4 linked regions of the Homo sapiens genome follow. The protein of the gene in region 3 interacts with the protein of the main gene of each other region in a pairwise test. Each region holds a gene or a part of one and is shown on either strand. Other genes may lie near its edges.

Region 1 (7,192 bases), on a different chromosome or scaffold from region 3:
CTGTACTTTCCGACTCGTCTTGAATTCCTTCCTGTATGAGATCCAAGAACTCTCTTGGGATCTGATCAGGACCTCTTTTCCCAGTAATATAAGCAAGAACTTAACTTCCAATTTTGGAGTACTGAGTCCATTTCTCTGGAGTCTGTGTTTTTCCCAAATGGGCCATTGCTATCTTTTTGCTTGAATAAACTCTTCCAGTTGAAATCTGAAACTTTCGATTATTTCGGGTTGACAAGTCCAAATAAGGTGACTGCATCTCTGCAACCAATCAAGCATTTATCTGGTTTGTCTCCTCATGTACCTTATAAAAGTCCAGCCTTCAACCTGTAAACTAAAAATAAAAACATACCTTCTGGCCTGGTGAGGTGGCTCACACATGTAATCCCAGCATTTTGGGAGGCCGAGGCCAGTGGATCACTTGAGGTCAGGAGTTCAGGAACAGCCTGGCCAACATGGTGAAACCCCATCTCTACTAAAAATACAAAAATTAGCCGGGTGTGGTGGCACATGCCTGTAATCCCAGCCACTCGGGAAGCTGAGGCAGGAGAATCGCTTGAACCCGGAAGGTGGAGGTTGCAGTGAGCCAAGATAGAGCCACTGCACACCACCCTGGGCTACAGGAGACTCTGTCTCAAACAAAAACAAAAACAAAGTACCTTCCCAGCTAAGTGAAGTGACTGGCTCTTGGCCAAGGGAACCCCCAAAAAACCCTGAAAATTGAGTGCCTCTGTATGACAGGATGGGAGGTGAGACAGGTCTCCTTATACCCTCTCCCTTTAGGAGTTTACATGCAGCAACTGACGCACATTCATGTAAAAACAGACATTATCTGACTGGAAAAACAGACTCCTTGTGGCAACAAGATACCAAATTACAAACAAGACCTAAGGCCACGCAAGGCAAAGGTAAAGTTACGCCTTAGAATTCATAAAATCTCGAGAAACAGGTCTGTTTTTTGGCTGGGATGGAATGAAGTGGCAGATAACAGACCCCCTTCCTTCAGCATTCCTTCCTACCTCCTCCAAACTTTAGACAAAGATTCAACACTCTCAACCAGCTGCCACCTACAGAATCCCTCAACTACCTGTGCCTTCTAACCCCCCTTCCACAGGTCCCACCCTTTCTGCCAATGGAACTTACACCTTCCAGGCACTGATTCATGATTTTCCCTGCAATTCCTGTCTCTCTGAAATGAATAAAACCAAACTGTCTTGAGCTGCCTCGGGACCACTTACTCCAGGCTGCTTGGGGTTGTGTTTCCCTCGGCCAACGGCTCTCCTATTCGGCTCCTAATAAACTTCTTTATTTTACATAGCTTGGCTTTTTCCGTTGACAAACCACAAGCCAGGACTGGGTGTTTCTCATTCGTGAATCGTTGTTGTTGTTTTGAGATGGAGTCTGGCTCTGTTGCCAGGCTGGAGTGACGCCGTCTTGGCTGACTGCAACCGCCGCCTCCTGGGTTCAAGCAATTCTTCTGCCTCAGCCTCTCAAGTAGCTGGGATTACAGGCACGCGCCACCATGCCCAGCTAATTTTTGTATTTTTAGTAGAGATGGGGTTTCACCATGTTGGCCAGGCTGGTCTTGAACTCCTGACTTCCTGATCCGCCCGCCTCGGCCTCCCAAAGTGCTGGGATTACAGGCGTGAGCCACCGCGCCCGGCCCTAAACTCTTTAATTGTTAACGTACCTCAGTTTAATTTTTAACAGAAAAAAGTGGGCACTGGGGACCCCAAAGACCGCTACTCCTCCCACACGAACCTGTCAGAGATGATAAATTACTTTTCTAAAAGCTTTAGTAAGCTGTTCTTTGTTTCTTGAGACCGACTTCCTTGTCTCCTAGCTACCTGTTCTGTAAACAACCTTCCCGCTTTTGCCGCGCCCAGACAAGTCCAGATACGCCTTCCCGCCTAGTAACGGACAGTCCCTGTTCCTTCCCGTCTCATAGACCCTATTTAATTTGTGTGTGTGTGTGTGTGTGTGTGTGTGTGTGTGTGTGTGTGACGGAGTTGCCCAGTTGTCTCGCTCTGTTGCCCAGGCTGGAGTACAGTGGTGCGATCTCGGCTCACTGCAAGCTCCACCTCCCGGGTTCACGCCATTCTCCTGCCTCAGCCTCCCGAGTAGCTGGAACTACAGGCGCCCGCCACCATACCCAGTTAATTTTTTTGTATTTTTAGTGGAGACGGGGTTTCACCGTGTTAGCCAGGGATGGTCTCGATCTCCTGACCTCGCGATCCGCCTGCCTCGGCCTCCCAAAGTGCTGGGGTTACAGGCGTGACCCACCGCGCCTGGCCAGACCCTATTTAATTTTAAACCTTAGCCTATCGAGTTAGTTTAGATTGTGAGGTCCAACCCTAGCCAATGAGGAAAGGACACAGAAGTGCTAGAAACTGCGTTAAGGAGAAAAACCCCTGCCCTACCCCGCTCGCTGTGCTCTTGTGACTGGCGCAAGCTGCACCCTTGTGTAGAAATAAATTTGCTTTGCTGAGGAATTTTCTGCCTAGATGCTGGTTTTCTTTGCGGCACCGGGCACTTGTTTCTAACAAACCCCATATCCGAGGCGGGATCCCCCCATATCCCTCCCGTGGCCCCCGCATAATGTGGGGAGACGCGGAGCTGCCCAGATTAGGCTCCGGAGCCGGGGCCGCAGTCGCCGTGAAGGGACGGGACAGGAGGCCCGGGGTCCCGGCTGCCGGCCCAGCCCCACCCTGCGACCGAGGGGACTCGCGTCCACGACCCCGGAGTCGCCGCGTGGAGGCCCGGGTCCCGCCTCAGCCGGTTCCGGCCGATTCCAGCCCCTCTCCCAGTCGCCCGGACGCCAGCCCCCTCACACACACCATTTCTCGGCTTCCAGGGTGTTCCGGCGTCCTCTGCGTGGCTCCCGCGACTAGTGTAGGTCACAGTGCAGGTTACAGAGCGACAGAAGCTCTGGTGGAGGCACCTAGTCCCTCTCGAAGCAAGAAAGCCGAGATCCTGACCGCTGTCGGCGCAGCACTAAAGGAATGGACGGAGGGCGACTGTCCCTTCCCCCTTCCCCGGATGGACAGTTGACAGGGCCCCGCCCCAGCACCCCTGATTGGATGGGGCGCCAGGCCCCGCCTCCTCCGTGCTGAGTGACAGCAGAAGCCCTGGGTAACCGGGTCCTGCAGATCATGTCTGACTTGTTCTGGCCACAGCGTCTCTGAGCGAGCAGCCTCTCTAAGCGAGCAGCCTCTCTAAGCGAACAGCCTCTCTAAGCGAGCGCCTTCCTTGAGCCCTGGTCATCAGATATTTGCATTTCAAGGCGACTTGCTCCTTATTGTTAGAAGAGGCACTGTTAGCTTCCTCATTCAAGGGGCTGTCCCTGCTCCTTCCTTCTGCACGGGATCACAAGTGTGTGCAGGGCATTTCAGACTCAGTGTTCAATGGAGAGATACGCTTGCCTCAGAGCAGGAGGGGAGCCCAGACCAGGCAAGGCACGACTGCACCAGGAGAGAGAGGCAGATGTCTTCCAGCGTGCGGGAAATGGGATGAGGCATGGCCAAGGCTTCCTCACACTGCTATGGACTCCAGCAAGGTTTTCCTTGTAAGGGAGCTAACCAAGCCAGAACTTATTAAAGATTTAGAGGCTCTCAGTACTATGTATATCTATCCCTGGTGCATTGACAGTGACTGAAGACCCATTTTTCAGGACATGCTGTGTAGGACTGAGCCAGGGAACATGATATAGCATGGCACTTTTATCTCACATATAACCCCCAAGGAGCAGGGTTAACTGAAATGAAAGATGGTCTCAGGGGAAGCTGTAAATGAGAAATTCTGTCATAGAAATTATGATTTAGGCAGGCCGGGCGCGGTGGCTCATGCCTGTAATCCCAGCACTTTGAGAGGCTGAGGCAGGTGGATCACGAGGTCAGGAGTTCAAGACCAGCCTGGCCAACATGGTGAAATCCTATCTCTACTAAAAATACAAAAATTAGCCAGGAATGGTGGCGCATGCCTGTAATCCCAGCTACTTGAAAGGCTGAGGCAGGAGAATTGCTTGAACCGGGAGGCAGAGTTTGCAGTGAGCCAAGATCGTGCCACTGCATTCCAGCCTGAGACACAGTGAGACTCCATCTCAAAAAAAAAAAAATTATGTTTTAGCCATCTTTTTTTGAGACGGGGTCTCACTCTGTCGCCCAAGCTGGAGTGCAGTGGTGCGATGGCTACTCAATGCAGCCTCAACCTCCCAGACTCAAGCAATCCTCCCACCTCAGCCTCCTAAGTAGGTGGGACTACAAGTGCCTGCCACCATGCCTGGCTAGTTTTTTATTTTTGGTAGAGATGAGGTCTCATTCGGTTGTTCAGGTTGATCTCAAACTCCTGAGCTTAAGTGATCCTCCAGCCTCAGCCTCCCAAAGTGTTGGGATTACAGGTGTGCGCCTGGCCTCTTGGGCATCTTCATTGCTCCACACCTTACAATGATAAATTCAATATTCTGTGAATATTTCCTGGAGAAATTAGCACAGCCATAACTTGTGATAAGGTAAATCAGGTGTTGAAATTTGAACATTCCTGGAAACTTCATTTAATAAACCTAATTTTGCTTATGTGTGAAAGTATTCATACATATTCATTGTTCAGACACAGATAACCATGGCAAGATGAGGTGCTATGAAAAACTATGTTGGGACAACAGGTACTATCAAGGATTATCACTGGCAAACCGGGACACATGGTCAGATGATTTCTGAGGCAGTTTTGTACCTTATGTAAAGGTAGAAAGTGTTGGAACTAGAAGACATCGAGCTGGAGTCAGTTGCAGAATTGATGCTTTGCTTGGCATGTGGGGGACACTTCTCAAATATTTGCATTTGGTCACAGAAGTATTCCGTGTTGTGTGAGAGCAGAGGAAAAAGAGTAGACTTTTTTTCCACTCTTAAGTCTCAGCACAACTCAGAAATCCAGTCCCCCAGACAGGATGTGTGGATGTTAAAGTCGCCCTCACCACAAGAGGGAGCTTCATTGACTTCCCCTATCTGGAAAATGGCTCAAAGGTGTTTTCTAAAAGACTTTTTAATGTAAGGCATATCAGTTATTAGAAATAAAGGTAGGACAGGTGTGGTGGCTCACACCAGTAATACCAGCATTTTGGAAGGCCAAGGTAGGAGGATCGCTTGAGGCCAGGAGTTTGAGACCAGCCTGGGCAACATAGTGGGACCCTGTCTCTACCCGAAAAAAGAAAAAAAGTTAAGGTAACATCACTGAATTTGGTTTCATTTACATGATTTTTCTTTTCTTTTCTTCTTTCTTTCTTTCTTTCTTTCTTTCTTTCTTTCTTTCTTTCTTTCTTTCTTTCTTTCTTTCTTTCTTTCTCTCTCTCCCTCTCTCTCTCTCTCTTTCTTTCTTTCTTTCTTTCTTTCTTTCTTTTTTTTTTTTTACAAGGTCTCCCTCTGTCACCCAGGCTGGAGTACAGTGGTGCAAACAGAGCTCACTGCAGCCTTGATCTTCCGGACTCAAGCAATTCTCCCACCTCAGCCTCCCAAGTAGAGCCTGGGACCACAGGTGTGCGCCACCAAGCCCAGCGAATTTTTGTATTTTTTGTACAGATGGGGTTTCACTGTGTTGCCCAGACTGCTCTCCAACTCCTGGCCTCAAGTGACCCTCCCACTTTAGCTTCCTAAAGTGCTGGGATTACAGGTTCTGAGGCACCATGCCTGGCCAATTTAATTTTTCATAGATTGATTTTTAAAAAGTAATGAACCTGGCTGGGCATAGTGGTCATGCCTGTAATCCCAGCACTTTGGGAGGCTGAGGTGAGTGGATCACCTGAGGTTGGGAGTTCGAGACCAGCCTAGCCAACATGGTGAAACCCCATCTCTACTAAAAATACAAAAATTAGCTGAGTGTGGTGGTGCATGCCTGTAATCCCAGCTACTAAGGAGGCTGAAGCAGGAGAATCGCTTGAACCTGGAAGGTGGAGGTTGCAATGAGCCGAGATCACACCATTGCACTCCAGCCTGGGCAGCGACAAAGAGAGACTCTGTCTCAAAAAAAGAAAAAGAAAAAGAAAAAGAATAAGCAATAAACCCTGTGAACTTTGATTAGATTTCCCAGATCCTAAAAAGTGCAGTGTAACAAAAAACTGAATGGAAAGAAGTAGGACTAACTGAGGTGAGAGGAAGAACCCTCTGTGGAGGTGACATTTGAGGTGACCTGATATAATGTATTAGTATAAAGAAAATGTTAAAATGAACATTATGGGAGGCCATTGTTTTGGACTGAGCTTCTGCACTAGGCACTTAGAAACCAGATCAGACCAAAATGGAGTCACTCATGCTAAATGCCACATAACGAAACTGAAACTTAAAGGAAGCGAATAGATCCCTATACAGATGAATTTTTCCATCGAAAACCAGTTCAGTATCCTGTTGGCCAGACTGGTCTCAATTTGAGAAACATCAAGACACCTCCATAGTCAAGGCTAATAATGTCCAGGCTGTGTCCTGTTCATCACCTAAACCTGCACCTCTAGTGTTCCTTACCTTCACTGGCCATCCCAACACAGTGCCCGCCTCCTGTAGAAAATCACATCTGGAGTGAAGTTGGTGGCGTTGTTTGTACTCTAACCAAACTCTCAGAGTGCATTTGGCCTTCAAGGGAGAAGGATGAGGTCGTGTTTGGTTTCAGACACACCTAACTCTGTATTACCATCTCTTTCTTGATCTAAGCGACACTCTATAAAAACTGATAGGCAATGGGCTGGGTGCAGTAGCTCACGCCTGTAATCCCAGCACTTTGGGAGGCCGAGGCAGGTGGATCACAAGGTCAGGAGTTCAAGACTAGCCTGGCCAACATGGTGAAACGCCGTCTCTACTAAAAATACAAAAATTAGCCGGGTGTGGTGGCGGGCACCTGTAATCCCAGCTACTTGGGAGGCTGAGGCAGGACAATAGCTTGAACCCAGGAGGCAGAGGTTGCAGTGAGCCAAGATCGTGCCACTGCACTCCAGCCTGGGTGACAAAGTGAGACTCCATCTCAAAAAAAAAAAAAATGACAGGCAATGACAGTACCTTTCACTTATGTTGATACCTAATCTGGGGATGGATGTGTCATCTGCACATAGAGTCAGGGGTTGGTCACTCATTGCTGCTCTGTCCTGTGGTACCAGGTTTTGACTCTAGGGGGTTTCAAACAGGCTTCTCTGAAGAAGAGTTTGGCTGGCACTTCAAAA
Region 2 (7,132 bases), on a different chromosome or scaffold from region 3:
CGGCCGCACTGCGGGCAGGGGTAGGGCTTCTCGCCGCTGTGGGTGCGCCTGTGGGCTGCCATCTCCGAGCTCTGGCGGAAGCAGCGCCCGCAGTCCGGGCACGGGTAGGGCTTCTCGCCGGTGTGGGTGCGCACGTGGCGCCGCAGGTCCGAGGGGTAGGCGAAGGCGCGGCCACAGTCCGGGCAGGGGAAGGGGGTCTCGCCGCTGTGCACGCGCCGGTGCTGGTAGAGGGCAGAGCTCTGGCTGAAGCGGCGGCCACAGTCGGCGCAGCCATAGGGTTTCTCGCCGGTGTGGACGCGCAGGTGCGAAGTCAGCGCCGAGCGCTGCGTGAAGGCCCGGCCACACTCCAGACAGCGGTGGGGCCGCTCCCCACGATGGATGGCCCGGTGTTTGCTCAGGGAGGAAGCGTGGCCGAAGCCCTTGCCGCAGTCAGTGCAGTGGAAGGGCTTCTCGCCAGTGTGACTGTAGACGTGCTCCACCAGTGTGGAGCGCCAGGCAAAGCTCTTCCCGCACACGTAGCAGCCATGACGCTGGTCAGCTCGGGGGACAGGGGGGTGGGCACAGAGGGAGGGGCGTCCCCGGTGCGGTGCCTTGGACAGCTGCTCCCAACCATAAGGGGGCCCGGCCGAGGGGGCTTGGGGAGACTTCAGCCCAGGAGACCCGGCGGCCACAGGGTCGGGCTTCTCCAGGGCTCCCGTCCCTTCCCTTTGTCTTTCCTTTTTCTTGTTTCTGGAATCTGCTGAGAGATAAAGAGGGGAGAGTTCAGGCTCGGCTCATCCTGGTCCTTGAATCCCACAGCCCGCGTGGACAGGGACAGGCCTGCTGGATCCCCGGCTGCTCCTGGGAGATGGAGGAGTGACACCTGTTCCTCGGCTGCAGAGCCAGACAGAGCCGGGAGGGAGAGAACAGCCCATTCCGCCTCGGGGCTGGGGAAATGTCACGGTGGGGGAAGGGCAGAGATGACATGAACATCTGGGCCTGATCCAGAAGGAGGAACGGACACCTGAGGATGTTCCAGGCAGCAGGAACAGCACCAAGAAAGGCAGAACCAGGAGGGCATGGCCAAGTTCAGTGGGGCTGGATACTCTGCAAAGGCTGAGGGCAAGAAATGAAAGAAAAAAAGGGGGGCGGACGGGGAGAAAGGAACCAGCCTGCAGGTGAACGGCAGGGGTGGGTCCTGAGGTGGAGGTAGAGTCAACAGAGTTTAAGAGACTGGGCGTGGGGGCTCAAGGCGGTAATCCCAGCGCTTTGGGAGGTAGAGAAGGAGGATCAGCCTAGGATTTCAGGACCAGCCTGGGCAACACACCGAGAGCCAAGACCCCCTCTATAAAATATATATATTACATAACAATTTAAAACAATTAGGCCAGACGCAGTGGGTCACTTTGGAAGGCCGAAGCAGGCGAATCGCTTAGCTCCAGGAGTTAAAGACCAGCCTGGGCGACATAGTGAAACCCTGTCTCTACTAAAAATACAAAAAATTGGCTGGGCGCGGTGGCTCACGCCTGTAATCCCAGCACTTTGGGAGGCCGAGGCGGGCAGATCACAAAGTCAGAAGTTCGAGACCAGCCTGGCTAACATGGTGAAACCCCATCTCTACTAAAAACACAAAAACAAAATTAGCCGGGCGTGGTGGCGGGCGCCTGTAGTCCCAGCTACTGGGGAGGCTGAGGCGGGAGAATGGCGTCAACCAGGGAGGCGGAGCTTGCACTGAGCCGAGATGGCGCCACTGCACTCCAGCCTGCGCGACAGAGGAAGACTCTGTCTCAAAAAAAAAAAAAAAAATTAAGCAGGCTTGGTGGCGGGCGCCTGTAATCCCAGCTACTTGGGAGGTTGATACAGGAGAATTACTTGAACCTGGGAGTGGGAGGTTGCAGTGAACTGAGATGGCACCACTGCACTCCAGCCTGGGCAACGGAGTAAAACTCTGTCTAAAAAAAAAAATTACCCAGGCTTCGTGGCGAGCACCTGTACAGTCTTAGCTACTCTGGAGGCCCAGGTGGAAGGACTGCTTAAGCCCGGGAGTTCCAGGCTACAGTGAGCTATGATGCCGCCACTGCACTCAGCCTAGACAACAAAGCGAGACCCTGTCTCTAAAACAAAAACACCAAAAAAAGCCCCCAGAGTGTAGTGACCACGCAGAGGTGAGGACTCAGAGGCGGGTATGGCAGGGCCAGAGCCCCCATCACAGCTCCTTTCTAGGCTGCATCTGGGAGCCACGCAGGGGCTCAGCCTCGTCGTCGCAGTTGAGAAGGCAGTTCAGAGAGGAAACTGCTAAGCAGGTAGCTGGAGGTGGCAGAGGGTACCGGGATGGGACAGGAACAGAGAAGTCCCCATGGGACTGAGCACCCGATACTCCACCTGGGTCCGTTTGTGTCTGACATTTCGCCACCTCCGGATCCTGGGCAGCCGGACCCCACAGTTCGGCCTCCTCCTCCACCCAGGAGATGAGAGCTGGCTTGTTGCCTCCGATTCCTAGGGAAGAAGAACGCAAACCCCACGCTGCGGGGAGGCCACCTGCCCGGCCCCGGGGCCCCCAACTTCACGCGCAGCTCCCAGAGGCGCGGCAGGGCCTGTGGGGGCGCAGGGCTCAGGCGAGCAGGTGGGGCTCTCACCGAGAGCGCTCAGGTGGCCGTAGGTCTCCCGCATCACGTCCCGGTACAGGGCCCTCTGCGCTGGCCGCAAGCAGCCCCACTCCTCCCGGCAGAAGTACACGGCCACGTCCGCGAAGCTCACAGCCCCCGGCTCCCTCCACTCGGGTCCGGCCCCGTTTGGGTCCCGGGGAGGGAGCGGGGCCAGAGGCGGCGCCATGGTAACTGTCAACCCCGACGACGGATCGGCTGCCTCCCCTGGCCTGGCCTGGGCCTGCGGAACCTCCTGCGCCCGAGAAAGCCTCCCCGGCCCGGGCCCAAGGGAAGGAGGGAGGTTACTAGGGCCCCCGAGGGCGCACTAGAGGGCGTGGAAACTAACGGTGCCGATGGCAGCGGGTGTATAATCAGAAATGGAATATGCCCTCATAAAAAATGGCGGCGGCGCGGGTACTCGACCTTTGCCCCTACGCAGTCGTGCCCAAGACAACGCCCCCGGTATCTCCAGTCCGCGTTCTCTCCGTACCCTCATCCAAAATGGCCGCGGTGACTAATACAGAGGCCGGCCTTGAAAACTAGCCGCGCATGTTTAGTCCCCGGCCCGGCGAGGCGGTGCAGCAGAGAGCTCCGCCCCGGCCCGGCGAGGCGGTGCAGCAGAGAGCTCCGCCCCGGTTTGCACGAACAAAAGAGCGCCTCGCGGGAGTGAGCTGGCCTCCCGGCCTTACTGAACTCAGGCATTAGTTTTCGTTTGTGGACCGTTTTATAATCGGGCTCCAGCTCATCACTCTCTCGTTTTGTCCTTGTTATCTCAGAAACAGGGCAACAGCAGTCTCTTCCCAATGTTGAGTGTAAAAAAACCAATGGAGTGGGCGTGGCGCAGTGGCTCACGCTTGTAATCAGCAGTTTGGGAGGCCGAGGCCAGCGGAACAACTGAGGTCAGAAGTTCGAGACCAGCCTCACCAACATGGTGAAACCCCGTCTCCACTAAAAACACACAAAAAAACAGCCAGGTGTGGTGGCGTGCACCTGTAATCCCAGCTACTGGGGAGGCTGAGGCAGGAGTATCGCTTGAACGCGCGAGGCGGAGTTTGCAGTGAGCCGAGATTGCCTCACCGCACTCCAGCCTGGGCGACAGAGCGAAACTCTGTCTCAAAAATAAAAAAGAAAGAAAGAAAGAAAAAGGAGTGGATACAGGAGAACCTCCTCCATCGTAGGCTTGTTGGGGCCTGAAATTCTGGAAGTTTCTAGATGGCGGAGGCAGTGGGGAGAGTAGGGTAAGGTTGAGAAAGTCAGAGGGTCCTCTCTTCTAGGAGCTTCTCCCATGTGCTGCTCAGGACGCCTCCCAATTGCCAGTCTCCCTGTAGCTGCAGCCGGGCTCTCACCTCCCCTCACATCCTGCCCCTGGACAGATGGCCCAAGGCTCCTCTACTCAAATCCAACTCATCCCTTTCTTGCCCCAATCTGCTTCCCCTAGGGTCTTTATCTAGTAAATGTCACCAACTCTCCCCCAGACCTCTCTCTCACTTTCTGATGGTCTATTCTGTGCTCCACGTGACTTCATACATGTCCTGTTGTAGCAGGACAAGCCACAGACAAAACCCCTCAGACACCGAGTTGAAGGAAGGGTTTTATTCGGCTGGGAGCATCGGCAAGACTCACATCTCAAAAACCGACTCCCCGAGTGAGCAATCCCTGTCCCTTTTAAGGGCTCACAACTCTAAGGGGGTCCCCGTGAGAGGGTCGTGATCCATTGAACAAGCAGGGGATATGTGACTGGGTGCTGCAGGCACTGGTAATTAGAACAGGACAGGACAGGACAGGGATTTTCACAGTGCTTTTCTATACAATGTCTGTAATCTATAAATAACAAAACTGATTAGGTCAGAGGTCGATCTTTACCAGGCCCAGGGTGTGGCGCCAGGCTGTCTGCCTGTGGATTCCATTTCTGCCTTTGAGTTTTTACTTCTTCTTTCTTTGGAGGCAGAAATTGGGCGTAAGACAATATGAGGGATGGTCTCCTCCCTTACTGTGTATGGGAGTCAGAGTTGCCTCCAACTGCCTTTTAGCTCTTGGTGGGCTCTTTAGTTGAATGTAGGCCCAGATTGAGAATCGCCTGTAATGCTAACTACTGGGAGGCAAAGGCAGGAGGATCCCTTGAGCCCAAGAGTATGAGATCAGCCTGGGCAAGTTAGTGAAACCCTATCTTCAAAAAATAAAAATAAAAATAAACTAAAGTAAAATAAGAACAAATGAATTGACAGTGGACAAACGAGAAAATTATACCAATTGTATTAGTTTTACATGTACATGGGGATCTTCACAAGAGAGGGAAGTCAGAAAAAGTGCCCAAAGCCAGGTGCTTTTATATTTTTTAGACAAAGAACAATAAAATTTCAGTGGGCAGACGCGGTGGCTCATGCCTGTAATCCCAGCACTTTGGGAGGCCGAGGTGGGCAGATCACTTGAGGTCAGGAAACCCCGTCCTTACTAAAAATTAAAAAAAAAAAGGTAGCTGGGGGTGGTGGTGGGTTCCTGTAATCCCAGCTACTCAGGAGGCTGAGGCAGGAGACTCACTTGAACCTGGGAGGCAGAGGTGGCAGTGAGCCAAGATTGAGCCACTACACTCCAGCCTGGGCGGGAGAGAGACTTCGTTTAAAAAAAAAAGAAGAAGAGGGCCGGCCCGGTGGCTCATGCCTGTAATCCCAGCACTTTGGGAGGCTGAGGTGGCCGGATCACGAGGTCAAGAGATCGAGACCATCCTGGCCAACATGGTGAAACCCCGTCTCTACTGAAAATACAAAAATGAGCCAGGCATGGTGGTGCGTGCCTGTAGTCCCAACTACTTGGGAGGCTGAGGCAGGAGAATAGCTTGAACCCGGGAGGCAGAGGTTGTAGTGAGCCGAGATTGCGCCACTGCACTCCAGCCTGGGCGACAGAGCAAGACTCGGTCTCAAAAATAAAAAATAAAAAATAAAAGAAAGAAAGAATAAAAGAAAAAAGAAATGACAGGACAAAGAAAATTTGGCTAGGGCAGTGAGTAACTAGAATATGTATCAGGGGGTTGTCAAACAGGTACAAGATACAGATGACTTTGTTACGTATGTTTATTCTGGTCCCTTGTGGCTTCTCAGGGCTGTTTTCTTGCCCTGGTACAGAAGGATACTCCCCCAGAGTAAGGTTTCTGGCATGCTCCATGCAGAAGAAACAGGTCGGATTGCTCCTTCTGAAACTACAATTTCTCTGTTTTTAACTCAGAATATATCAGTATACCAGGCTGTGAATGTTTTACAGGAGGTCCAGGGGAGCCCCTGTGGAGGAGCCTGGAGGGAACTTCAGGGAGGGTGATCTGGCGGGAATCTCAGGAAACAGCTCAACCTGCCGCATAAGTGAGGAGAGCCACTTCTTTCCCTTTTCGGGGATCCGGGTGGGGCGGGCGCCGCTGAGCGCGTCTAGGTGGCCGCAGGTCGCGGCATCGCGTCCCGGATCAGGACGCGAACATCCCTATACCGCAGACACCCCCACTGCGCCAGGAAGCGGCAGTCGGCCGTTTCCGCGGAGCTCTCGGTCCTCAGACACTTTCCCAGTCTCCGTCCCTTCCACCTTCCCTGGTTCATTGGCTTGGAGCCATGAGCGCGGCCAGTGGCTCCGCGGCTCCCGGAGGGACGCTGGGGGTTTGCCCTGGGAGTAGGGTGCAGGAGGTTCCACGGACGCCTCGACGACCGGTAGTAGCTTCGGGTGGGGCCTAGAGAGGACGGCGAGCAACTCTGTGGTTCCGGAGTCCAGAAAAATGAAAGCGCTCTTAGAAAAGATGGCTGGCGGCTGGGCACGGTGGCTCACGCCTGTAATCCCAGCACTTTGGGAGGCCGAGGCGGGTGGATCACTTGAGGTGAGGAACTCAAGACCAGCCTGACCAACGTGGTGAAACTCCGTCTCTACTAAAAATACAAAAATTAGCCGGGCATAGTGGCACACGCCTGTAATCCCAGCTACTTGGGAGGCTGAGGCAGGAGAAGCGTGTGAACCCGGGAGGCAGAGGTTGAAGTGAGCTGAGGTCGTGCCACTGCACTCCAGCCTGGGTGACAGAGTGAGATTCTTGTCTCAAAAAAAAAAGAAGAAGAAAAGATGGCTGGCGACAGTCCAGCTTCTCTTCATTTTAGAGAAAGGCATTGAACAGCTTGAATATCGATCCGGTGTTGCTGACCTAGTTTGTTCCTGCTGGAAAAGTCTTCTCTTGCTGTTCCTCCCAGGCGGCCTTGGCAGCGCCTCTTGCCCGTAGTTAAGATGGGTGCGGCCGCTTTGACCTGGGCTCAGGCAGGTGGCAGCAAAGGCTGCAGGGGAGGGGAAACCGGTCCAAGATTCTCGACCGAGGGCCTGACGTCCCCTTCCCAGTCCCTTAGAGGAGGCCCTTCGAGGAGGCCCACTCAGTGACGGAGTCTTTTTTTTTTTTTTTTTTTTGAGACAGAGTCTCACTTTGTCGCCAGGCTAGAGTGCAGTGGCGCGATCTCCGTTCACTGCAACTTCTGCCTCCCTGGTTCAAGCAATTC
Region 3 (6,605 bases):
AGGGCACTAATACTGAGGTTAGGAACACTGGTGTCTTAGATTGGGTCCCCACTGGAGCCGACCCAGGAGTATATTTGGGAGGTGGTCCCAAGAAGTGCTGTATGGAACACGAAAAATGCTCCAGGAAAGGGAGGGAAGTGAATACAAGATGAGTTAATGATCAGAATAGCCCTGTAGGTAGCTGGAATTTGGTGTCTCTGAGGACCACTGACATGCTGGTACAACATGCTCCCAACTGGAGGAGAAATAACTAAAGCATGTGTTCACCAACTCTCACTCATTTGTTGAATACTATTCCAAGAGGCTTTAACTCTACAGTCCAGAGCTTGCTCCTTGGCTAGAGAAACTCTTCAAGAAGAGAGTTCCAGGTGCTTGCTCTAAGAAACCACCATTGTATATTAGAATAAAGTGTGCTGAGGAAATAGAGGTGGTGCCCCTGAAATTACATTCTGCAGAGAAGAACAACAGAAAAATTGACTGGTAATTGACCACACTCAAAAAAGAAAAATAATGAGACACAGTATCTGTATATTTCTATGCCTGAAAATTTATTTAAGATTTATTTAGATAAATATTTGTTTAAAATGGAATAGCTCCATATGAGAAATTATGGCAGAGAGCAAATATTTCAATTAAGATAGTTGACAGATTTCAGAGCAAATTACAACTTATGTTCATTTGGTAGAGAGGTAAAATGTGGGGGGAGCATATATTTGGAGGCCAGATTCAATCTAAGAATTGGTTGGAACTGAAGTTTTCCAACTAGCTTCCCATAACTCAGCTCATAGATGAGCTACATCAAGAATGCTGGTTGATGAGAATCTGGTGAGTCCAGATGACAGCCTCAGCAGCAAGAAGCACTAGAGCAGGTTGGGCGGCAGCACATGGTCTGGCAGCAGTTGGGGCGGCAGCAACTGGAGATGCAGCAGGAGAGCCTGCAGCAGCTGAAGCCACAGCAGGAGGAGCTACTGCTGCTAGAGATACTGCAGGAAGGCTGGCAGCAGCTGGAAATGCAATAGCTGGGGTGGCAGCAGGTGGTCCTGTAGCAGGTGGTTTGCCAGCAGATGGGCTAGCAGCATAGAGACTGGCCACAATGGGGCCTGTAGCACCTGGACACACAGCAGCTGGGGCGGCAGCAGGTGGTTCTGCAGCAGGTGGTCTGGCAGCACTGGGGTCTGCAGCAGCTGGACACACAGTAGCTGGGGCAGCAGCAGGTGGGCTGGCAGCACACAGACTGGCAGCACTGGGGCCTGCAGCAGCTGGGGCGGCAGCAGGTGGTCCTACAGCAGGTAGTCTGGCAGCATTGGGGTCTGCAGCAGGTGGGCTGGCAGCACACAGACTGGCAGCACTGGGGTCTGCAGCAGCTGGACACACAGCAGCTGGGGTGGCAGCAGGTGGTCCTGCAGCAGGTGGTCTGGCAGCACTGGGGTCTGCAGCAGCTGGACACACAGCAGCTGGGGCGGCAGCAGGTGGTCCTGCAGCAGGTGGTCTGGCAGTAGCTGGGACGGCAGCAGTTCTCTAGGCCACAGCCCTGGTCAGAGCACACAGAGCCACAACAGGAGTTGACCATGGTGTCAGAGGGTGGAGGTTCTGGGTGGGTTTCCAGGAAGGAGGGTTTGGAAGGCTTGGAAGTCTCCTTGCCCCAGATCCTCTTTTATACCCTGCTCAGGGCTGATGTCATCGGATGCAGCACTCTTTCCTTGTCATTGTTTGTTCTGATGAGCAGGCAATTATCAAATTAGGCAAGTTTGTTTTTCTGCTTAAATTTGTCAACATGGAGAAAAGCATTATTTCCTTCCCCTGGTGTGTTAGGATTCTTCAGGTCAGCTCTTCTTGAACAACCTCTTGTGTGCCTCTTGCTGCAGCTTCCTCCTTGAGCTGCCATGTGACATCTGCCTGCAGGTACCATGTGCTGCAGCCTCATTTTCCTTAATACATTATGTCTGACCTTGGGTGATTTTAATTCTTCTAGGCCCGTAATTTTCTTTTGGTGACTCAGGAGGAGAAAGCTGTGCTTTAATCTCATGGCATGTTTGTTATAGATCAAGTGAGCAATGAAGGTTTGAATGTGAAACAGGTGACCAGTGGCATGAAAACAAATACTATTAGGATATATTCCTTGCCACCTTCCATACAATGAATCATGACCCATTTTCTAGATGTTCTACTGGGGAAAGCAGAATTGTTTTAAGGTGGACATCTAAGTCATGAATTATCGATGCTTCTTTTTCTTGAGAAACAACACTCCAAAACTCAGTTTCAGGGCCTTTAGGGGAAATTGGCTACAGAGATCAGCTATACTAAAAGGTTCAGGTCCCTCCGCTCTCTGCTCTGAGGGGCTGATTTTCCTTCTGACTTTTCCTTCCTGTCTCTCTGGCTTTAACAATCACATTGAGTCATCTCCTCTATTTCTAAGGTTTACTTGCCAACCTAAGGTAAAGGACCCAGTGTCCTTGCTATATATATATAATATATATATATATATATAATATATATTATATATATACATATATATACTATATATAGTATACACACACACGTATATACACACTATATATAAATATACACACTATATATAAATATGCACACTATATATAAATATACACACATACACACACATATATGTGTGTGTATGTATGTGTGTGTATGTGTGCGTGTGTGTGTGTATATATATATATATATATATATATACACACACACACGCACACATACACACACATTATGTCTGACCTTGGGTGATTTTAATTCTTCTAGGCCCATAATTTTCTTTTGATGTATATGTATATATATATATACACTCACACACACACAGGTTTGGGGGAATATATATATTCTGCCAAAGGACCTTAGGAATATATATATATATTATACATATATAGATGGGTAGATAGAGAACCTTATATATAGGTAATATAGGAATATATATATTTACATATTTATGAATATATAATATATATTCTTCATATATGTTTGTATTTAATAGTATGTATAAATATATATATAATATATACAATAACATATTTAGAAATATATATATTTATATATATATGTATTTACCTTTATCTCCTAAGGCCCTTTACCTTAGGAATATTATGCACACACACACACACACACACTCAAACACACACACACACACACTCCCCCAAACCTGGATGTTAAAGAAACCCAAGGAAGAAGGCAGAAACTTCCTGTCTTTGTGCCACCCTCCACTTTGGGATGCTCTTGGGTTAGCAATTTCTGTTTGGACTGGTCTCTCTGAGGATACTATGGACACCCCAACTCTGCTGAGGGTCTTTCCATAAAACATGCTCATCTAAATATTTGGGGGCCATGAAGGTAAGAAAAAGTGAATATGCCAAATGGCAGAACCATGTTTCCAAAACTACAGAAATACTCTCACAAGGAATCAAACCTAACAAGATGAAATATCAGAACCAATTGTAGATCAAATGAGTGGTTATTAATGCAGCATGGCAAACGAGATTGGGGAGGAGTGAATATATCTAAATTTACTGGGAGTATTTATTTAACTATACACACACCCTAAGGTTGTGTCCCCTCTTAGCATCCCTTCACCAGATAGAATATTACAAGTTGAGGACATCTTATCTGAAAATCTGAAATCTGAAATTCTCCAAAACCCAAACCTTTTTGAGTACCTATATGATGCTCAAAGAAAATGCCCAATAGAACATTTAGGATTTCATGTTTTTGCATTAGGGATGCTCAACAAGTATAATGCGAATATTCCAACTCTGAAAAAACTTGACATTTGAAACACTTCTGGTGCCAAGCATTTCAGATATGGGGTACTCAACCTGGATCACCACAATGAGCTCTATTACTGCAGGCATGCAGTAGAAAGGCAGGTTGAGAACTTCTCGTCTAGAAACAACCACTGTATGTGTATAAGAAGACCTTGAAGCAGTTTATGATGAGGATTACTTAGGTGTGTCACACTTTAGTAACCTCAGTATTAGTTCACACTTACTGCCAACCACTTACTGCCACTAACACTGTGTTAACTCCTGCATGCAAACTTGAAACATTCATGAAAGTGGAACATTTACTAAGGTAGATGAGGCATTTCTAATCCTCCAAGAGTGTTCAGAACACATCTGGAAAATGCATTTCAATCCAGGCTAGAAGGATAAAGATAAATTGGGGTTTATGAAAAGCAAAGTTGCTGTGAGGGTGGCATTATGATCAATGAGGAACAAATGGAAACACTTTGGAAATGTAACCTAAAAAGGAGAAAAGTGGAACAAAGCAATGGCAGTGCAGCCTGAAGGGGCTCTGTATGAGAATGGACTTCCTCAGATGGCTGCCATGGGCTGATATAGGATAGGGAAGATAGGATGTTCCTAGGGAGAAACAAAATCTGACACAACATGAGGAAGGTGCTTTATGAAATGGCTGCCTCTAGAGATAATCAGGGGAGGGGGTTTCAGTGTGAGCTGGTGTTTCTGACTGAGGCACATGCAAGAGCCAGATGGAGGGAATTGGATGAAATTACTTTGAGCTTCCCTCTCTGCACTCAGGTCCATGTAAGTCTAATAAGTGGAATATAATGTTATACTGTTAACCAGTTTCTACTGCTGCCCTGGTCCTGATTTCCAGGCTTACACAACCAGGATGATAACAATCTGGCTCCTGAGTGGGCCCCTGCTTCAGCACTGGCTGGTGTTCTGAGTCTGCACTGGCTCTGATGCACCCAGACACAGCATCGTATTGAGGTCCTGAGCCTTTGTCCTCAGTCAGAATGAACAGAAGCAGGTTCCAAGCTGTTACGGGGTTAAAACCCTGGTGAGCCCGTTTATGGTGTATGAGAACAACTCTAAGATTTCCTCGAGAACTTGAATTATGGGAAAAGAATCACATCCTTGAAGAACCCTGATGACTGGTACCTACCGATGACTCAGTGGAGATCACTTTTATTTACATGAATTGACTATTTTTTTTCTTTGTAAGGTGAGCGTGTGTGTTTTGCTTAATGTAAATTTGCATTATGTTTAGAAATCTCTCACGATTTCTTCTAGTACTTCAGCACTTTCATTTTTCCCCAGCTTTATTGAGGTAGAGTTGGCAAATAAAATTTTATGTATATCAAGGGTACAACATGATGCCTTGATATGTATATATTGTGAGATGATTATCACAACCAAGTTAGTTAATACCTATCACCTCACGTAGTTATTGTTTCCTGTGTGTGTAATGAGAACAATTAAGATCTACTTTTTCAGAAAATTTCAAGTACTCAATACAGTATTATTAACTATAATCACCATGCTAGTTACTAGATCCCTAGAATTTAGTACCAATGTCAGATTTTGGGATTTGACATGTACTATGATCCTATGAGAAGCAACCACTGAGGGAAACTGAGTGAAGGGTACAGGGAACTTTGTCTTATTCAACTTCATGTTAATCTATAGTTATTTCAAAATCTATCGTTATTTACAAAAGTAAAAAAAAAAGAGGCTAATTGGTAGTAAAAGACAGCATGCTTTTTTTTTGGATATTTTCATATATTTATTCTTATTTTTCATGTGTCTATGTTTAACTACATGGGATTTTTTTTTCGATGTGTGGATATGTATATAGGAAAATTCAGAGATTATTCTTTTTAAGATTGGGTAATTGGCCAGTTTGTGAGCATTTACAGTGTTTTAAATAACTTTTATCTTTCAATTAGAAACACACATCAGGCATATCATACACTCTGTCATCATTTTTCCAATAGTTATACATGTACTTTATTTTCCTTATCTTATTGAGTAGTTCATAAGACTTTTGTTTAAAATACTTTCTGTAAAACTCGGAGACAATAAGGTGGGGCTCTGCATTTATGTTCTTGTTGAGTTCTTAGTAGTCCGAATCTTATGCAATTCACCAACTATATTTCTACAAGCAATGTAAATTGGGAAAAAAATCGGGTACTGAAATATTTATTTTTATAAATGAGCTAAACTTAAAAATGATCCAAAGGGTAAGTTCACAGCAAGCATTCATTTCTTTTCCCTCCATGTAATTTGCATGCAAGTCAGGCATTTTCACATATTTTTATAAATCTTTTTCTTGATTTGTTCTCCTTCTTACAATAATTTTAATACACAATTATTTTTACTCTAGTTAATGGGATTTTTTAAGTGCCCTGAATTCCATTTCAGAACTATGAAGGGAATTAAATATTTATGTTACATGGATAATAGTATTCAATATTCATCAAAGCATGCAAAATAAGCAATTAAGAATATGCAACTGTATCCCATTATGAACATATCCTTGATACGCCTTCCAAACTTAAATTCCAAATTCTTTCTGCTATTCAGCTAGAAGTTTTTGCTAATATTTTCTTCATGGAAAATTGTATTTTCTGCATTGATTAATAATTAATAACAAAAAAATTTCCATTTTTTGAAATAGCCTATTTCTTATTAATTTTTTAATCATTCAATTACCCCCCAGCTTATACAAAGAATTATATAGTAATTATTTTTTAACAGTTAACAAGTCACAGTAGGTTTGGGTTATAACGAACATACTGTGGCTTACAAGATAATATGGAATAGTGGCTAACCCATGAATATAGTGAGAAAACTTTT
Region 4 (7,027 bases), on a different chromosome or scaffold from region 3:
CTAGGACTACGGGCATGCGCCACCACAACTGGCTAATTTTTTTTTTTTTTGTATTTTTCGTAGAGATAGGGTTTCACCATGTTGGCCAGGCTGGTCTCAAATTCCTGACCTCAGGTGATCCACCCACCTCAGCCCCCCAGAGTGCTGGGATTATAGGCATGTGCCACCGTGCCCGGCCCAACTTTCACTTTTTAAATGTAGCCTGTGATTAATAACAAACCTAATGTCAGCAAAATAAATGTCAATGGTGACAGTAATGTAACTCTCTACTTTACCTTGCAGATTAGATTTTTAAAATCTTGTTCCATATCTACTACTTTATATGCTGTTGGCCTATAAACCAGTTTTAAAGATTGCCATTACAGCTCACAAAACAGTTTACATGGAATCACATTATTATACTCATACAATATGTATTTATAAGTGGCATTTGTTTGAATGTAACAACTAATAACAAACAGTAATATTATTTATAGCTACCATTTATCAATCATCTACTAAGCGGCATCATTGTGATGGATGCTCTATATCATGATCTCCATTCCTCACAATAATTTACAATATAAGTTTTCACTACATTATATAATGAGGAAACTGAGGCTCAGAGATGCTAAGTGACTACTCTAAGGCCACATAAAAACTAAGCAGCAGAACAGGAATTTGAAGCTGGGCCCATATGGCTACAAAACCCAAGCTCCTTCTAGCACACTGTTGCAATGAAGAATAAGAAAATGCTTTCATCTTACCCATAGTCATCTATCAGGTGAGAGCCAAGTACCACAACATCAAGTTCAAAGAACTCAGGTTCGGTTTTAATGCCAAACATGATCGGGGCAAGTTTAGAATAATCTGCACGGTTACAAGTAGCAACACAAACCCGCAGCTTTCGGTTATTTCCATTCTTCTCCATGATTTGCTTGTTTCGTTTTGAGAGGTTCTTAAAATAGAGTTCCTGAAATTGCCAAAATAAAAACTTTATAATCAGAATAACTCCTAGATATAACTAAACTTTAAACTTCTCTAAATCAGAAATAGAAATTTTCAGTTTCAAGTCCTTAACCACTATTTAGTACAGTGATTCTTAATCTTTTTTTGCACCTCCACTTATGTGTGACTCTCCCATTGGTATATCCAGAGTTAAGAAACTCCAAGGCTGGGAGTGGTGGCTTACGCCTGTAATCCCAGCACTTTGGGAGGCCGAGGTGGGCAGATCACGAGGTCAGGAGATCAAGACCATCCTGGCTAACGTGGTGAAACCCCGTCTCTACTAAAAAATACAAAAAAAAAAATTAGCTGGGCGTGGTGGCGGGTACCTGTAGTCCCAGCTACTCGGGAGGTTGAGGCAGAAGAATGGCGTGAACCCAGGAGGCGGAGCTTGCAGTGAGCTGAGATCGCACCACCACACTCCAGCCTGGGTGACAGAGCGAGACTCCATCTCAAAAAAAAAAAAAGAAGAAGAAACTCCAGCAAACTAACTGTAACACCACCCCATCCTCTCACACTCAAGAAAACACACTGGAATGCCATTAAGAAGGAGTGATATAAATCAGCTCTTGTTTAAAAGGTGAGGAAATATCAGCTCTTTATTATTAAAAATTACTTGCCATAACTCACAGATGAGCCCAACATAGTAGGTTGTTGCAAAATCAGTTGTTGAGAACCACTGATCTAGTTCAACTCCATCACTTTATAGAAAGGGAAACACAGGTCTTGAGAGGGAAAATTACTGCCCCAACATTCCAGATCATGTCTCATAAGGAACACAGGCTATTCACTCTCACACTATACACTTCCTAAATACAAGGTATTGTGATTAATGCTGGGCAGGAGAAAGATGAGTAAGATAAAAACCTGACCTTCAAGCCCTCATTAGTACCTACACACCAGTGCCAACAAAACTGACAACTCCAAATGCCTATCAGATATCTCCTGCTGTATGTCCTATAAACACCTTAAAGTCAGTGTCCCAAACTGAACTCATTTTCTTTTCGGAAGCTGTTCCTCCTCAATTGTTCTCTGAGTTATGCAATTTCATTCATCCAAATGCCTTCAAATCCTTGTCTTTTCTGTTCTTCACCCCATATCTCCAAAATGCTGTCAATTCCACCCCCTAAATATCTTTCAAATCTATCTCCTCCTCTTCATCCATACAAGGACTTCCCCTAGTCCAGTCCCTCATTTTAGGTCTGGACGATCTTAACAGCTGTCAAGTGGTTTGCCTGTCTCCTATAAACTTTCTTACTTATTTATTTAGAGACAAAGTCTCACTCTGTCGCCCAGGTTGGAGTGCAGTGGCACGAGCTTGGCTCACTACTACCTCCGCCTCCCAGATTCAAGCAATTCTCCTGCCTCAGCCTCCCGAGTAGCTGGGATTATAGGTGCCCACCACCATGCCCAGCTAATTTTTGTATTTTTAGTAGAGATGGGGTTTTGCCATGTTGGCCAGGCTGGTCTTGAACTCCTGGCCTCAAGTGATCCACCCACCTCGGCCTCCCAAAGTGCTGGGATTACAGGCAAGAGCCATTGCGCCCGGCCTCCTACAAACTTTCAAAGTGATCTTCCTTTCCACCATCTCTTCCCTGCCTAAAATTACCCTTCTCTGTGCCAAAGTGCCAGCCATACCAAACTGCCTCCAGTTCAACTAGTGAATCTCCGTATATCTATACCTTTATAGATGCCACCTACTTTTTCCTAAAACTTCCTTTCCTCCTTGCTGGTCTTCTACTCATCCTTCAAAACTCCATCTAAGTGTCATCCTTTCTGGAAAGGCTTCACACAAACCTCAGGTCCTCCTCCCCCACGTTTCTCAGTTGCTGCCTCGCTCTGAGCGTTATGGCCCTCCCATTCACAGATATACTGTTGCTCAGCTCCACTGCTCGCTCATCCCTCCCTGCCATGCTATACCCTCCATTCAAAAAGTAAAATCAGGGGCAAGGAATAAGAGATTTGTTTTATGGAATTTTTTAAAAAGTTTTTACATTTTTGGAGATGGGATCTTGCTATGTTGCCCAAGCTAGAGTGCAGTAGCTATTCACAAGCACGATCATAGCTCATTGCAGCCTGGAACTCCTGGGCTCAAGCAACCCCCCCACCTCAGCCTCCTAAGTAGCTGGAACTACAGGCATACACCACTGAGCCAGACTTGGAACATGTTAAACTTCTCTAAATCAACATAAAATTTCACCTCATGGACTCTGATCTCAATGTTCATGTTTCAGTAAGTGTATCAATATTTAGAACTTGTAATCAGGAATCCAGAGACACTTCAGTAAGGATTCCAATTCTAGGGGTGCCATCCTTTAGATGAGGGTAAACTCTGAAATTCACTGGAAATTCCATCAGTAGCCCTCTGCTGTTGGTACCTCAACACTCTCTTAGGCTAAAATTCTGTGACCATGCAAACGGTCCCATCATTAGGTCCACTCTGAATTTATAATCCCCAGTAAAAGCTAATTTCACCCAATGGCAAACACTTACAATATAACGAAACGGGCATTCCACCAAGAGAGTTATATTCAGAAGACCCAAGCACTATCTGATCTTTTTTTTTTTTTTTTTGAGACAGAGTCTTGCTCTGCCACCCAGGCTGGAGTGCAGTGGTGCAATCTCGGCTCACTGCGACCTCCGCCTCCTGGGTTCAAGCAATTCTCCTGCCTCAGCCTCCCGAGTAGCTGGGATTACATGCATGTGCCACCATGCTGGGCTAATTTTTTCTATTTTTAGTAGACATGGGGTTTCACCATGCTAGCCAGACTGGTCTCGAACTCCTGACCTCATGATCCACCCGCCTCGGCCTCCCAAAGTGCTGGGATTACAGGCATGAGCCACCGCACGTGGCCGCACTATCTAATCTTTAAAGAGACAAAAATATTCTTCCAAAAATGGTTGTCGTAAGTGTTCTTGTATATAATCCTTCTTCCAGTGATCAAATTTGAGCTGAAAAAATTGTTGGTAATATTTAATTTGCTGAGGCAAAACAAATCATTCATGGTTTGTCAATTTGTATTTATTTTACAAAGAACAGTAAATGTTCCATCTGGCAGTACTAAAATGCTTATTTACCAGGTTACTCAAAGGTTATTCTACCTAAACTGAGAGCAAGCTGGCCATATAAATAAATGGTGAAAAATACAACAATGTTACCTAGAAACCTAAAAAACCTTAAAAAGTCAAAGCTTTTTCAAGGAAAGAAGTTAAATCTTAAAAATAAAATTAAGGTAAAATGCCTTTTTAAGGGGAGGTTTTAAAAAATAATTTTAATTAACTAAATTTTTGATCAGGTAGTATATTCACATGGTTTAAAATTGAAAAGTCACAAGAGGTTAAGTAGCAATAAGTCTTTTCATCTGTGTTCCCCAGCTAGCTAGTTCTTTTCCCTGGAAGCAGTTACTGGTTTCCTATCTGTCCTTCCATGGATAAACTATGATAATATAAATAAATATATGGCTCACGCCTGTAATCCCAACACTTTGGGAGGCCGAGCTGGGTGGATCACGAGAGGTCAGGAATTCAAGAACAGCCTGGCCAACATGGTGAAACCCCATCTCTACTAAACATACAAAAAAAATTAGCCAGGTGTTGTGGCACACACCTATAGTCCCAGCTACTTGGGAGGCTGAGGCAGGAGAATCACTTGAACACATGAGGCGGAGCTTGCGGTGAGCCAAGATGGTGCCACTGCACTCCAACCTGGGCAACAGAATAAGTCTCTATCTAAATATATATATATATGATGTGTATATATATGATGTATGTATGTGTATACATACACACATACACAACGTATATTACAAAATTGGTAACATATTCTATAAACTGTTGGGGCAAAGCTTACTTTTTTTTTTTTTTAAAATACAGTCTCCCTCTGTTGCCCAGGCTAGAGTGCAGTGACATGACCTTGGCTCACTGCAACTTCCACCTCCCCAGTTCAAGAGATTCTTGTGCCTCAGCCTCCTGAGTAGCTGGGATTACAGGTGCCCGCCACCACACCCACCAAATTTTTTTGTATTTTTAGCAGAGACGGGGTTTCACCATGTTGTCCAGGCCAGTCTCAAACTCCTGACCTCACATGATCCACCCACCTCGGCCTCCCAACGTGCTAGGATTACAGGCATGAGCCACCGCGCCCAGCCACAAATCTTACTTTTTAAAATGCTTTTAATTATGACTCAAATGGTAGAATGAGAACATTTAAAGATATTGGAAATATCAAATCTAAAAGTGCAAAATTTTGGAAATTGCTGGCCATCAGCTTTTCAAATATACAAAGAGTTATAAGAGCCCTAAAATTTAGCAAAAACATTCAACTTTGGCTGGGCACAGTGGCTCATGCCTGTAATCCCAGCACTTTGGGAGGCTGAGGTGGGCGGATCACCTGAGGTCACGAGTTGGAGACCAGCCTGGCCAACATGGTGAAACCCCATCTCTACTAAAAATACAAAACTTAGCAGGGTGTGGTGGCGTGCACCTGCAATCCCAGCACTGAGGAGGCTGTGGCAGGAGAGTTGCTTGAACCTGGGAGGCGGAGGTTGCAGTGAGCCGAGATTACACCATTGCATTCCAGCCTGGGAGACTGATCGAGACTCCATTTCAAAAAAAGAAAAAGAAAAATTAGCCAGGCATGGTAGCGCGTGCCTGTAATCCCAGCTGCTTGGGAGGCTGAGGCACAAGAATCGCTTGAACCCAGGAGGCAGAGGTTGCAGTGAGCTGAGATCGCACCACTGCACTCCAGCCTGGGCAAAAGAGTGAGACTTTGTCTCAAAATAAATAAATAAATAAATAAATAAAAACAAGAAATCTGGCTGGACATGGTGGCTCATGCCTGTAATCCCAGCACTTTGGGAGGCTGAGGCAAGAAGGACTCCTTGAAGTCAGGAGTTCAAGACCAGCCTGGGCAACATAGCAAGACTCCTGTCTCTACAAACAAATTTTTTTTAATTAGCTGAGTGTGGTTGTGCACACCTGCGGTCCTAGCTATTTGGGAGGCTGAGGCAGGAAGATCACTTTAGCCCAGGAGTTTGAGGCTGTAGTGAGTTATGATCATGCCACCGCACTCCAGCCTGAAAGACTGAGCAAGACCCTATCTTTAAAAAAATTAAAATTTAAATCCAGCCTGGGGCAAGTAAATTTCCTTTTGTAAGGAGGCAATCACTTTTCATCAGTACTTACAATGGACAGTCTTGAGTTGAGAGAATGCAAAAAGCTGCTTTCAAGAATTGAGTTTCGGCCGGGCGCAGTGGCTCACGCCTGTAATCCCAGCACTTTGGGAGGACGAGGCGGGCGGATCACCTGAGGCCAGGAGTTCAAGACCTGCCTGGCTAACATGGCAAAACCCCATCTCTACTAAAAATACAAAAATTAGCCAGGCATGGTGGCAGGCGCCTGTAATCCCAGCTACTGGGGAGGCTGAGGCAGGAGAATCACTTGAACCCGGGAGGCGGAGGTTGCAGTGAGCCGAGATCCTGCCACTGCACTCCAGCCTGGGCAACAAGAGTGAGATTCCATCTCAAAAAAAAATAATTGGGTTTCTCAGATTGCCAGTGAGTTCAAGATGAAGGCAAGCTTGTCTATAAACCTGGCCTTAGGTAACATTGTTCTATTTTTCAGTTTACTCATATGGCCAGCTTGCTCTCAGTTTAGGTAGAATAACCTTTGAGTAACTGGTAAGTACGAGGCATTTTAGTACTGCCAGATGGAACATTTACTGTTCTTTGTAAAATAAATATAAATTGACAAACCATGAATGATTTGTTTTGCCTCACAGTATTTTTCTTTTTTCTTGAGACGGAGTGTCACTCTGTTGCCCAGGCTGGAGTGCAGTGGTGCGACCTCAGCTCACTGTAACCTCCACCTCCCGGGTTCAATCAATTCTCCTGCCTCAGCCTCCCAAGTAGCTGGGATTACAGGCGCACGCCACCATGCCTGGCTAATTTTTGTATTTTTTTAGTTGAGACGCGGTTTCAACTAAACCAGGCTGTTCTCGAACTCTTGACCTCAAGTCATCTGCCTTGGCCTTGCCTCACAAAAA

What was found.
Region 1: the proteins of KRTAP4-4 (region 3) and ZNF440 interact in binary tests that used the Homo sapiens proteins (3 or more experiments, as listed by UniProt).
Region 2: the proteins of KRTAP4-4 (region 3) and ZNF764 interact in binary tests that used the Homo sapiens proteins (3 or more experiments, as listed by UniProt).
Region 4: the proteins of KRTAP4-4 (region 3) and GNE interact in binary tests that used the Homo sapiens proteins (3 or more experiments, as listed by UniProt).

What each region holds. Positions count from the first base shown.
Region 1 is NC_000019.10:11,810,093-11,817,284, reverse strand, and holds the start of ZNF440 (zinc finger protein 440), read right to left. Parts: upstream 3,013-7,192; 5' UTR 2,838-3,012; coding exon 2,835-2,837; intron 1-2,834. UniProt on the Homo sapiens protein: May be involved in transcriptional regulation.
Region 2 is NC_000016.10:30,555,372-30,562,503, forward strand, and holds the start of ZNF764 (zinc finger protein 764), read right to left. Parts: upstream 3,004-7,132; 5' UTR 2,812-3,003; coding exon 2,616-2,811; intron 2,476-2,615; coding exon 2,362-2,475; intron 740-2,361; coding exon of another isoform or gene 737-739; coding exon 1-736. UniProt on the Homo sapiens protein: Zinc finger protein that functions as a cofactor for steroid hormone receptors, such as NR3C1/GR.
Region 3 is NC_000017.11:41,159,122-41,165,726, forward strand, and holds KRTAP4-4 (keratin-associated protein 4-4), read right to left. Parts: upstream 1,628-6,605; 5' UTR 1,571-1,627; coding exon 1,070-1,570; 3' UTR 528-1,069; downstream 1-527.
Region 4 is NC_000009.12:36,248,446-36,255,472, forward strand, and holds part of GNE (bifunctional UDP-N-acetylglucosamine 2-epimerase/N-acetylmannosamine kinase), read right to left. Parts: intron 953-7,027; coding exon of another isoform or gene 911-952; coding exon 747-910; intron 1-746. UniProt on the Homo sapiens protein: Bifunctional enzyme that possesses both UDP-N-acetylglucosamine 2-epimerase and N-acetylmannosamine kinase activities, and serves as the initiator of the biosynthetic pathway leading to the production of N-acetylneuraminic acid (NeuAc), a critical precursor in the synthesis of sialic acids.